2 separate regions of the Homo sapiens genome follow, and region 2 is linked to region 1. Evidence: fine-mapped QTL for protein levels in blood plasma. A gene starts in region 1. The other region holds a variant in brackets. All regions are shown on one strand. Distances are from middle to middle.

Region 1 (5,394 bases):
CTACAAGAAAAAAAGTTATTTGGGAAAGTCACAAACAGCAATTGCCTATAGAGTGAGGTTGGAAGTGAAATCCATATGTAATGCCTCTGTCAGCAAAGACTTAGTAGAAAATGGTTTATAATAAATATTCACATCTGCTGCTTTGGACACTCTAATCCATCCTAAGGATCTTTGCTGTGTCAGGTTTTGTTCTAGATGAAGAAGCCCAGTAGTTATAAAGGTTTGCAAATAGGTTGTATTTATCATGGTTAGCTTTACTTTTATAACTTTTCTCTGTTTTAGAGGTATTCATGATGTTTGGGGGTAAAATTTGTGATTAAATATTTCACTATAGCTTTTATGGTGATATAATTCTAGAATTCTTATTATAAAATGGACCAATGCTATTTTCACAATATATCACTTACCTAAAATCTGTCAAGAAGGCATCATTGATAACAATGCTATGCTGGCTGTGGAAAGCAATGGCTAAAAGCCCAGGCTCTGGATTCGAAGTGCTGTGATTAAATGCTAGCTCCTTCTATACCTAGGGTGTCATTATGAGCAAGTTACTTCGCCTTTCCAAGCCTCTATTTCTTCACCTACATAGAGGAGGCATTTTTTACATAACAGATATTTAAGCATTTTTAAATAGTACTAACTATTTAAAATACAGATAAATAGTACTATTTAAAATATTAAATAGTTAATACTATTAATACTAACTAATATATTAAATAGTTAATACTGTTAGTACTATTTAAAATATTAGTTACTACTATTAGTACTAACTATTTAAAATATTAAATAGTTAATGCTATTTTCTTTATCATTAGATTACTGTAACGATCATTCAGAATTATCCATATCAAGCACTAAATATAAGGATCATACGGAATTATCCATATCAAGCACTAAATATAGTATCTATCACATTAAAAGAGTTTAATAAATTTTAAATGTTATTACTGAAACAATAATATGCCTTCTAAGTATGATTAAATAATCCCATGGATAGTACTAATGTCATACTTATTTACACTAAGTACTGAGCTTATGTAAACATATCCTATTGTTTTACTTAACTCCAAGTCCCATGATAGTTTGTTACTGGACTTCCTTAATAAAAATATTAATTAAAATTGGATCCCTGATTTGTTTTCACTTTGAGGAAATGAGCCACTAAAAAATATATGATACAAAAATTATGCAAATACCCTGTGCTGTATTTAGCCATCTTATGTAAAAAAAATTTAATTTATCAAAATTTGAATTCTAAGCTAGAGTAAAAACTCTCAAGTCATTTTGAAATGGAAGTATTTATTTCCACTTCAGCTTCAAAAAAATTTGTTGAGTTCATGAGTATCACAATTTTTAAAGCAGGAATGTATATTGAGTTGTAAGTAATGATTAGCATAATTATTATAAATAAGTTTAAAGAAGAATACAAATGTTTTCCATAAATTTTGAAAGCTATGCCTTTTAAAACTTTCTAACATATAATTTATTTGAAAAAGAAAGTTGCCTTGCATAGTTGCTTTCAATCTCATCTCCTCGAAATGCTTTATTAATCACAAATATAAAAGAATAGTAGGATGTTTGATGAAATCTGCATATAAAGGAGGTAGACCATTAGGCTCTATGTCCCAATTAGAAAATTTTATAACCTAATTATTGATGTGTCTTAATTTTGACTCAACTTATTTCTTATACCTACAGGAGCTACTGCATATTTAATAACTGACCCCTAACACAGAATGATAATTGAAAAAAATAGAATGCTTCATTGCTTATAAACTGTGAACACTTGAAATAAAACTTTGATTCATTCTCTCTCTCTCTCCTCTCTGTCTCCCTCAGGTCGAGTTTTAGCTCAGGCAAGTGGCAATGGTGTTATCCATTTGCTAGATCTTAAATCTGGGGAGATTCACAAATTGATGGGCCACGAAAACGAGGCACACACGGTTGTGTTTTCTCACGACGGGGAGATTCTCTTTTCTGGAGGCTCTGACGGCACAGTTCGAACGTGGTCTTGACCGTCAGCACATCCCGCTGCAGAGGGCATTCCCTTTAAGGCTTGAAAATGCCTCCTGTAGTCCCAAACCAGCAAAGAACTGGTTAAATGTGCCAGCAGGTAACATTTACAGTCTGCTTTAAAACATGCTTTGGACATATATTTTAGTGCTCATACTGTTACTAATAAAAAAATAACTTTATGCTCACCCATTTGTGTCAGGGTCTTTTTTCTCTCTCATTTTGATAAGAATTTAGAGACACGGCATCTTTGCTAGGGGTTTTGAAAGAAACAGCTTTACAATGACGCCTAATGACAGACTAGATGAATTACAGGAGATTGATTTTTAATGTTAGAGAACAAACTGCAGGAAAACCTGGCTACTTTAAAAAAAAAAAAAAAAAATCAGATCCAAGCTGCAGGAAGACCTGAAGTTTAATCATGCAGCACCAGGGAAGTCTTTCTGCCACCAAAGGGTCAAATAGAATCGACAAGCATACGTTTTCACAGATTGTTTGACAATGATTATGCTTTATCTATTAATAATAATTGGGGACTGCAGATGGCTTAAATCTAAATGCAAGCCTCTTCTGGAACTTTCATCTCTGCAGCCCATCCAAGAACGCGTTAGGTATACAATTTTATACAAAAAAAATTAATTGCAATTTCAATGCAAATAAATATCTCGCACGTAGAATGTCTTTACCCCTCCTAATGCGCGCATCCGCTGTATAAAGTGCGACTGCTTGGAGAGCACTCTAGCCTCGTCTAAAGCAGCTCTGGGATTTCGACAGAGCTGGGCTCAGAAGCCAGTTGTTGGCGCTGTCCGTGGTGCTGAGGAATTCCCGGCTGCCGGCAGAATGAGCTCCAAATCAGCAATCTGCAAACTGCTCTTACTGATGCAGAAACCCAGCTAAAGTTGCTCCTTTCCTTCACATCCACAGTTAGTATTTTCCGGTGTGTAAGAGGGGATTCAAGCAACACACTGTGGACGATGGTGATGGTATTGCCAGCGGAGTGGGCTTTAAGCTACAGCATGCTGTTGCTGTTTGTGATCCTCAGAGCCTAGCCAAATCACCTCTACTGCCGTAGCAAACACTGTGTAAGTGAACTCATGTGTGGAGGAGGCGTAATCAGCCGGGAAATTTCATAGAAGGATCTAAGAAAATGCTAAAAATAAGTTCAACATGATTCTGCTACTGGGGTCTGGATTTCTACAGGACCAGCTTTGCTTCTTGCTTTGAATTCTGAAGACAGGTCCAAAGCAAATTTCTTATATGTGTCTGCTGTGTTTCTTTCTGGAAGGGCGGGAGACTGCTTCTTTACTGTGTTTTGAAATGGGAGGTAGAGAGAATGGATTGCCTTTAATTCATGCCTAAAAAATGTATTCTTTGGGTAATTAAAGAGGAACTGCTTTCTTAAAACATACCTGACCTTTTAGTTCATTTTGGGCTGTGACCCCTACCACCACCATTAACCTCCAGAGTGATTAGGTAAGTGTATCTTATGACATGAATTATGTTTGTTTTCTCAAAGAAATAGATGCAGTCATTTTAAATCATCTGTAGCAATATGGGGAGGGGGGGAAAATTAAGCTGGGAAGTGATCCTCAGTTTAGCAGTGTTTGCTTTCTTTTTAAAAATCTTCAGATAAACATTACATTTGATTTATCCCATGTTTCTTCTCTTAAATAGTATCTTAAATTGTACTAGGGCAGCTCAATTATGAAGGCTTTTTTTTAAAAAAAAAATAGCCTAAGAACTTTGTTATATTGAAAATAAAATCTTGTTTTTTACCATGCAGATTTTAAGATATATTTCATATAATAAAAACATATTTAATGTTTATATAAAGTAGATATTACATTCCTATTTTTACCTCTAAGTTTACATTTACCATAACCTAACACATTAATGCCTACCTGTGGCTTACAAAGAGATCATTTTCTGCCTATGTCCCTTTGAAGCAGAATCATATGTGTATTTTATATGGCTTATCTTGCATGCATTGACAGATATTGCTGGAATATTATAAGGAAGCACAGTAGCTTTCTTTTCCTCCAAGATAAACTTTCTAAATATGTGATGTATAAATGCTTGCTTTAATTAGTAAATTATATTTATGCTTTTTCAGAAGCTTCTGTTATGTTTGTTATCTCTGTAGTAATTTGAGAGAAAAAAATGCTTTGTCAAAGGGAGCTTCCAGATTCTCAAGTAGAATTATAGGTTTGCATTTTCTTGTTCTGTCATGACTTATTATTTTTGACATATTTTATAAGAAATCATCGGCTTTATTACCTACCCAAAGGGAATTCTAATATCAGAGGATATCAGAGTAATTCTGATATCAGCTTTCTCCAGAAAGAGGGCATACTACCTTCCATTTTACTATTACTAGAACTTGTATATCTACCTTAAAATGCAAATATAATAGTTTATGAAGTTTCCTAATGTCATCTTTATCTTGTTATCGTCTGTATATGTTAGACTGAAAAGAGATGGTTTATCATTGCTCTTAATATAATCTGAAAATAAACCAATGTATAACATTTATAACTGACCTGAAAATGTCCTGTATACCATCTTAGTGTTATTGGCATGAAGCCAATAGCATTTAAATAAAAAAATGAGCTATTTGACAATACTTTTTCTTATTTATTACTCCCTAAAGTCACAGTCTCCCCAGAGCCTCTGTGTGATTTAGTTATTCTAAATATTTAAATAAGAGCCCACTCCCAACACTTCACATCAAGCACCAATACTAAGTGGAGTTTACAAGAGTCAGTGTCACAAAATTAATAAGGCATATTTTCTATGAATGGTTAACACTTAATTACAGTTTTAAGCAACTTCCATAAAGAATTTTATGCTGGCATCTTTGTGCAGATTTTGTACATGTAAATATTTTTGACATTTCAAGAGTTATGTTTTCAAGATCTCATAAATTGTATTTATATTATATTGCAAATTTTAATTTAAATAATATTACATATATACTAGATTCAAGTTACTGTGAAGTAAATTTATAGATAGATCTTTCCTGCCCACTAGGAGCTTCCTTCCTATGTAAAATAATGTGGACAATAATACAAATAAATTTGTTTTTAACAAACTCTTTTAAGCACATGGAATTCTCTTGTATTATTTATTATTTCAAATTTTCTTTCTCTTAATCACTATGGAATAGTTATGTTGTTTTTGTTATCAACTTTATTTCAAAAATCCAGACTCACATTCACTTAAACAGGTAACTGATGTTGACGCCATTGTTGTTCTTTAATTATGGGCATAAATAAGTAGGAAATCCTTTATAGTAGCTCCTTCCTAAATATAATTTATATTCAACTGTTGGTTTATTCCCTTTCCTTTAGAATTAGATTTTTTTCTCACTAATCTCTTGAG
Region 2 (5,394 bases), 13 kb before region 1:
TAGTTTTGCCTTATCCAACATGTCACATAATAAAAATCAGACAGTATGTAGCGTTGGCCGATTGGCTTCTTTCACTTAGTAGTATGCATTTATGTTTCCTCCATGCCTTTTCATGGCTTGTTAGCTCATTTCTTTTTATCACTGAAGAATATTCCATTGTCTGGATGTACCACGCTTTATTAATTCACTTACTGAAGGACATCTTGGTTGCTTTCAACTTTTGGCAATTATGAATGAAGCTTCTATAAACATTCTTGTACAAGTTTTTATGTGGACATAAGTTTCCACCTCTTTGGGTAAATACAAAGGAACACTATTGTGAAATAATTGGCAAGAGTATGTTTACTTTTGTAAGTAAACTGCTAAACCATCTTCCAAAGTAGCTGTAACATTTTGCATCCTCACCAGCAAGGAATGAATGTTCCTATTGCTCCACATTCTCACCAGCATTTGGTGTTATCAATGTTCTGGTGTATGTGGTACCTTACTGCTGTTTTAATTTGCATTTCCCTGATGACATATGATGTTAAGCCTCTTTTCATATGCTTATTCACCATCTGTCTATCTTCTTTGGTAAGGTTGTTTAAGGTATTTGACCCATTTTTAAATATTTTTATGGTAAGTTTTATTTTAGTTTCAATGTGCAGATTTGTGATATAGGTAAACTGCATGTGACAGGGGTTTGGTGTACAAAATAGTTCATCACCCAGGTAATAAGCATAGTACCCGATAGGTATTTTTTTCTGATCCTCTTCCTCCTCCCACCCTCCACCCTCAAGTAGGCCCTGGTGTCTATTTTTTTTTCCTTTTTGTGTCCTTGTGTTCTTATCATTTAGCTCTCACTTATAAGTGAGAACATGCAGTATTTGGTTTTCTGTTCCTGTGTTAGTTTGCTTAAGATAATGGCCTCCAGCTCCATCCATGTTGCTGCAAAGACATAATCTCATTCTTTGTTATGGCTGCATAGTATTCCATGGTATATATGTACCAATTTTTCTTTAACCAGTCTTCAGTTGATGGGATTTATGTTGATTCTGTGTCTTTGCTATTGTGAATAGTGCTGCAATGAACACACGTGTGCATGTGTCTTTATGGTAGAGTGATGAATATTCTTTTGGGTATATACCCAATAATGGGATTGCTGGGTTGAATAGTAATTCTGCTTCAAGTTCTTCTGCGACTCATCACACTGCTTTCCACAATGTTGGCCCATTTTTGAATTAGGTTGTTTTCTTATTCTTGAGTTTTAAGAGTTCTTTGTATAATTTGGATAATAGTCCTTTATGAGGTATGTCTTTTGCAAATATTTTGTACCAGGCTGTGGCTTGGCTTTTTGTTGTTTATTTTAATAAAGTCCTCCAGTTTGTTTTTTTAATGATTATATTTAGTATCTTCATTTATCACTCACTATTTTGCTCTGCAGTTGCTAAAAGTACTTAGACACATTGTATATATACCTAGTTTTAGAATACTTTGTGCTTCTCTGATAATTCAAAATTTTGAGTTCTATGTATAAGAAATGACTACATGGTAATAATGGTGATCTGTAATTAATATTTTTTAATGTTTTATTGTTTTTATTTTCCAAGCATACATAAAAGTGAAGAAAATAATCTAATAAGCCCCATTTGTCCACTACCCAGGTTTGACAACTGTTAATATTTTGACAGTTTTGTTTCATTGATCCCTTCTTCTTACATGTTCATGTGTTTTGTTCTTAAGATTCTGAATTCCCAAAGAATATATTTTTAAATTTAAATATTGACAACAGCAAAATAGTATGGTTTCTCAAAATGATTCCACAAAATAATTTTTATCTATTTGGTTGTTTATGTTCTTATATATTATTTTAAAAATGATTTCTTTAGAAATAACTGAAATATTTAGTATTCAGAACTTTTTATAGATCTACATCAAGATCTTTTGAACATGTGCAAAGTTGCCACTGAAACATAAAATGTATCATCTTTGATAAATAGCCCTTAAAAAAAGCACTTTTCTTTAGCTTTTTTCCTAAAAATACTGGGATTTACTAGGAAAGTATAAAAACTATACTGTATGTTTCTAATTTTAGAGTTTATAAAAATTTTATTCTGTTTAATATAATAAAATCCAGTGCA[G/A]CTTGCTGTAATTGTTGATTTTGGCAAGATACTCTAGTGTATGAATGCCACTGAGATATTAATAATCATAGTATCTAGTTAATGCAAAAAAGCTTGAATTTATATAAATTTTTTAATTTTCTTTTTTTTTTTTTTTTGAGATGGAGTCTCGCTCTGTCGCCAGGCTGGAATGCAGTGGTGCAATCTCGGCTCACTGCAACCTCCGCCTCCTGGATTCAAGCGATTCTCCTGCCTCAGCCTCCCAAGTAGCTGGGACTACATACAGGCATGCGCCACCATGCCCAGCTAATTTTTGTATTTTTAGTAGAGACGGGGTTTTGCCACGTTGGCCAGGATGGTCTCAATCTCCGGACCTCGTGATCTGCCCGCCTCGGCCTCCCAAAGTGCTGGGATTACAGGCGTGAGCCCCCGCGCCCGGCCATATTTTTAAATTTTCTAATGCAGATTGCTTGTCTTATAGGTGTTCAAATTTTTCTATTCCTTCGCAACTATAATTCCCACTTTACCCCTACCTTCCCTGCAGTTTATCCTTGGGAGTTTTTGCATTTAATAGCCTCACTGTAGATCAAGGGACCCCAAACATTGGCAGTCTATTTAACAAAATACTTGAGCTGATTTATTGATAAAACTAGATGCAATTTATTTGCATAAGAGTCTTTTAGGAGGCAAGAGGATAGATAGATAGTCAAATTAAAGACAATAGAAGGTAAAGCACAGTTTTCAAGGCCTACAATGTGGCTTATTATTTCTTTGTTTTCTTCTCTAATGCAAAAATTGGCTCTGAATTGCACATCTGGAATGACTATCTGAAGTAGAATTTTTTTAAATGCCTAGTGTCATTCCTCCTAAAATGACAGCATCTTGTTCTTCATTTGGGTAGTTCTCCGTATGCACTCTCACTTGTTCTGGTCAGCACTTAATCCTGGCCTGGTGAATTAGTAAATCACACCCTTCCGCCTGCCAGCCACATGATCCAAGCTAACCAATAAGGGAAAATTTTTACCCCTTATGAGACTGCTAGGCAATAGAGGTACTCTTTCCATGGAATTTGAATTTGGTAGGCCATGAGCCTGAACCCAGACTACCAAGTGGACAGAGTCTGCCTCAGTATGGATTTACACTGCTGGAATCAGAATATAGAGACAATGAAAGAAGGCATCCTAATAACATCATTCCAACCTCTTGATCCAGCCATTATTGGAGTCAGTTTATTTGAATTTCTGTGTGATAAATATATTTGTTAAACTTTAAAAAAATTTTTCCCTTTGCCACATTGAGTTGACTTTCCTTCACTTGCAACTGAAAATACCCTAATATTCCATTTATTCAGACAAGTCACACTCCATATTTTCTAATAATTGTACTTCCAACTTTGCCATTTTTATGCCTCCTGTATATAGCTAAATCATGCGTGCCTCATTACTTTAACTCCAAGTACTCATCAGTGCCCTTGATCTCAAATTGTCTACTAGCTTTCAGCAAAAGCCCATTTGATCCAAGTGGGCTAGCAGATGAAGAGGTTAACAGTGAGAAAGTATGATGGAGAGAGGCTGAATAAAGAACAAACTAATCACATGTTGCTTTAAATTTTCTATGAGATATAAAGCCAGGTCATCGGAATGTAATATTATAGAATGTTAGCTGAAATTTCCATAAAGATGCCTTCACAGAATTATTAGTTAATATAAATTTATTTAGCAGTTCATGTAGCAGCCAAATTAGCTTAACTTTCTGGCATAACTACTTTTGTTTCCCCTCAGGCTGCAGGATAGAGGAAATTTTATAGACATACTTGGTTGGCATCCTTGTTCAAATCCTAACTCTGTTATCTTAATGGAGGTCTTTCATGTCTCTATGATTCAATATCTTTCTCTGTAAAATGAAAATAATAATGTTGCCTTTGCATTTGATTGTAAGGATTCCATAATAAACAGATGTGAAATATTTGGGAAAAAGTGAGATAATAATTGTAAGCTAGTGGTTCTATCTTTTATTATCAAGCACTTCAAATTATTTAAAAGGAAACCTCCATTAGGTATTATGCCTGTGGGGCTTACTCAGGTAATATATAGTGACATATATAAAATTCAGAGCTAATCTATGATTTCAGAGAGTTTAATATTTTTTAATCATCCGATTATACTACATACTACATTTAAACTAATTAATTTAGCCATTCCCAGTTCATACAAGACCTTCGCATTTGATATTGCAGCCATTCTTTTGCTCTTGTGAGGAGGGTATCCATCTCAATTATAATTCTTTTATCACATATTTGCATATCTTTTTTTTACTATAACTATTAATGGTGTAGTGATGCTGATTTATCACTTAGCCTCTTTTACCTAACAATGTTGCCCTGAAGTAGGAAAGGATGAAGTTCTAAAATTAGGATGTAATTATTAACAATTCACCACCTGAACATTAACTAACAGAATCTGACAGTGGCTTTCCCCACAGACAAACCTCCACATTCAAGAAAGAGGATTCCTTTATAATGAAGTTAGTTCTGACACCAATGTACATTAAGAGAACAACTCCCAAAATATTATAACTCTGACTTTTAGAGTCTTAAAATGTAGTTATGGTTTCAGTAGTAAAATCTGAGCAATACTAAGGGTGGTTTTATTACTTTACAATAAGACAAAAATGATTAATTTCTTAATTAAATTTTTGATATTAAATATAAGCCCTTGGTTCCTTTGCCTATTTCTAAACAACAAAGAAGAATATATCATAGTCTATGATTTGCTATGAATTATGTTTTGTGATGGCTTATCGAATCCTCAGAACTGAACTGGAACTTGCATTTCCTCTGTTATCAGCAAAAGCTTTTCTGAAATGTTTGCAAAGCTCCAGATATATGGGGTTCCTGAATAAATATTATCCCAACACTGATCAGCTGCATAGGTGAAGACCAAGTTAGGAAATAGGTCTACAAGGATTTCTTAATGAAAGCAGGTGGCTGTTGATATTTTAAATAGATTCAATAATTAATTAGAACATTTTTAGGACTTTAGGTGCATTTCACAAGGGATTTCTGTAATATTCAGAAGGTAGCCCATGTAGGAAAGCACCTGGTTCAAGATCATCATTCATGCTCTCCTAATAGGGGGGAAATATTTTTAAAACTCCACACAGGCCAAAAGTTCTGTTCCTAGCAAGGTAGACTTAATTTTTTTGATATATTCACATGCTATAGTTTAGGAATTTCTGGAGAATCAAAGAACTGCCTTCCTAAGAAAGACATGGATTTCATGTTAAAGACAGAAAA

Alleles and levels. Positions count from the first base shown, and alleles are read on the strand shown. Strength reflects both the effect of a copy and how common the allele is.
As copies of G replace A in region 2, the plasma level of the protein whose gene starts at base 2,754 in region 1 goes down (weak association).

Evidence for each region. A credible set is the group of variants that fine-mapping cannot tell apart. PIP is the chance, under the fine-mapping model, that this variant and not a neighbour inherited with it causes the effect. Protein levels are from antibody-based Olink assays in UK Biobank. Linkage for the fine-mapping came from a reference panel and not from the study's own genotypes, which makes the PIPs less certain.
Region 2: its variant is the best candidate, but not a certain one, in a credible set for the plasma level of the VWC2L protein (UK Biobank, PIP 0.68).

The regions. Positions count from the first base shown.
Region 1 is chr2:214,408,301-214,413,694 of GRCh38, forward strand. VWC2L (von Willebrand factor C domain containing 2 like) reads left to right here and starts at 2,754. Exons shown (of 4, transcript NM_001080500.4): 1 at 2,754-3,486. It overlaps SPAG16 (sperm associated antigen 16), which reads left to right. Exons shown (of 16, transcript NM_024532.5): 16 at 1,840-2,201. The coding sequence ends at 2,015.
Region 2 is chr2:214,394,918-214,400,311 of GRCh38, forward strand. The region is part of intron 15 of SPAG16 (sperm associated antigen 16); the gene reads left to right. Among named protein-coding and RNA genes, the nearest start is that of VWC2L, 13 kb to the right of the region's middle. The variant G/A (reference allele first, on the strand shown) is at 2,121.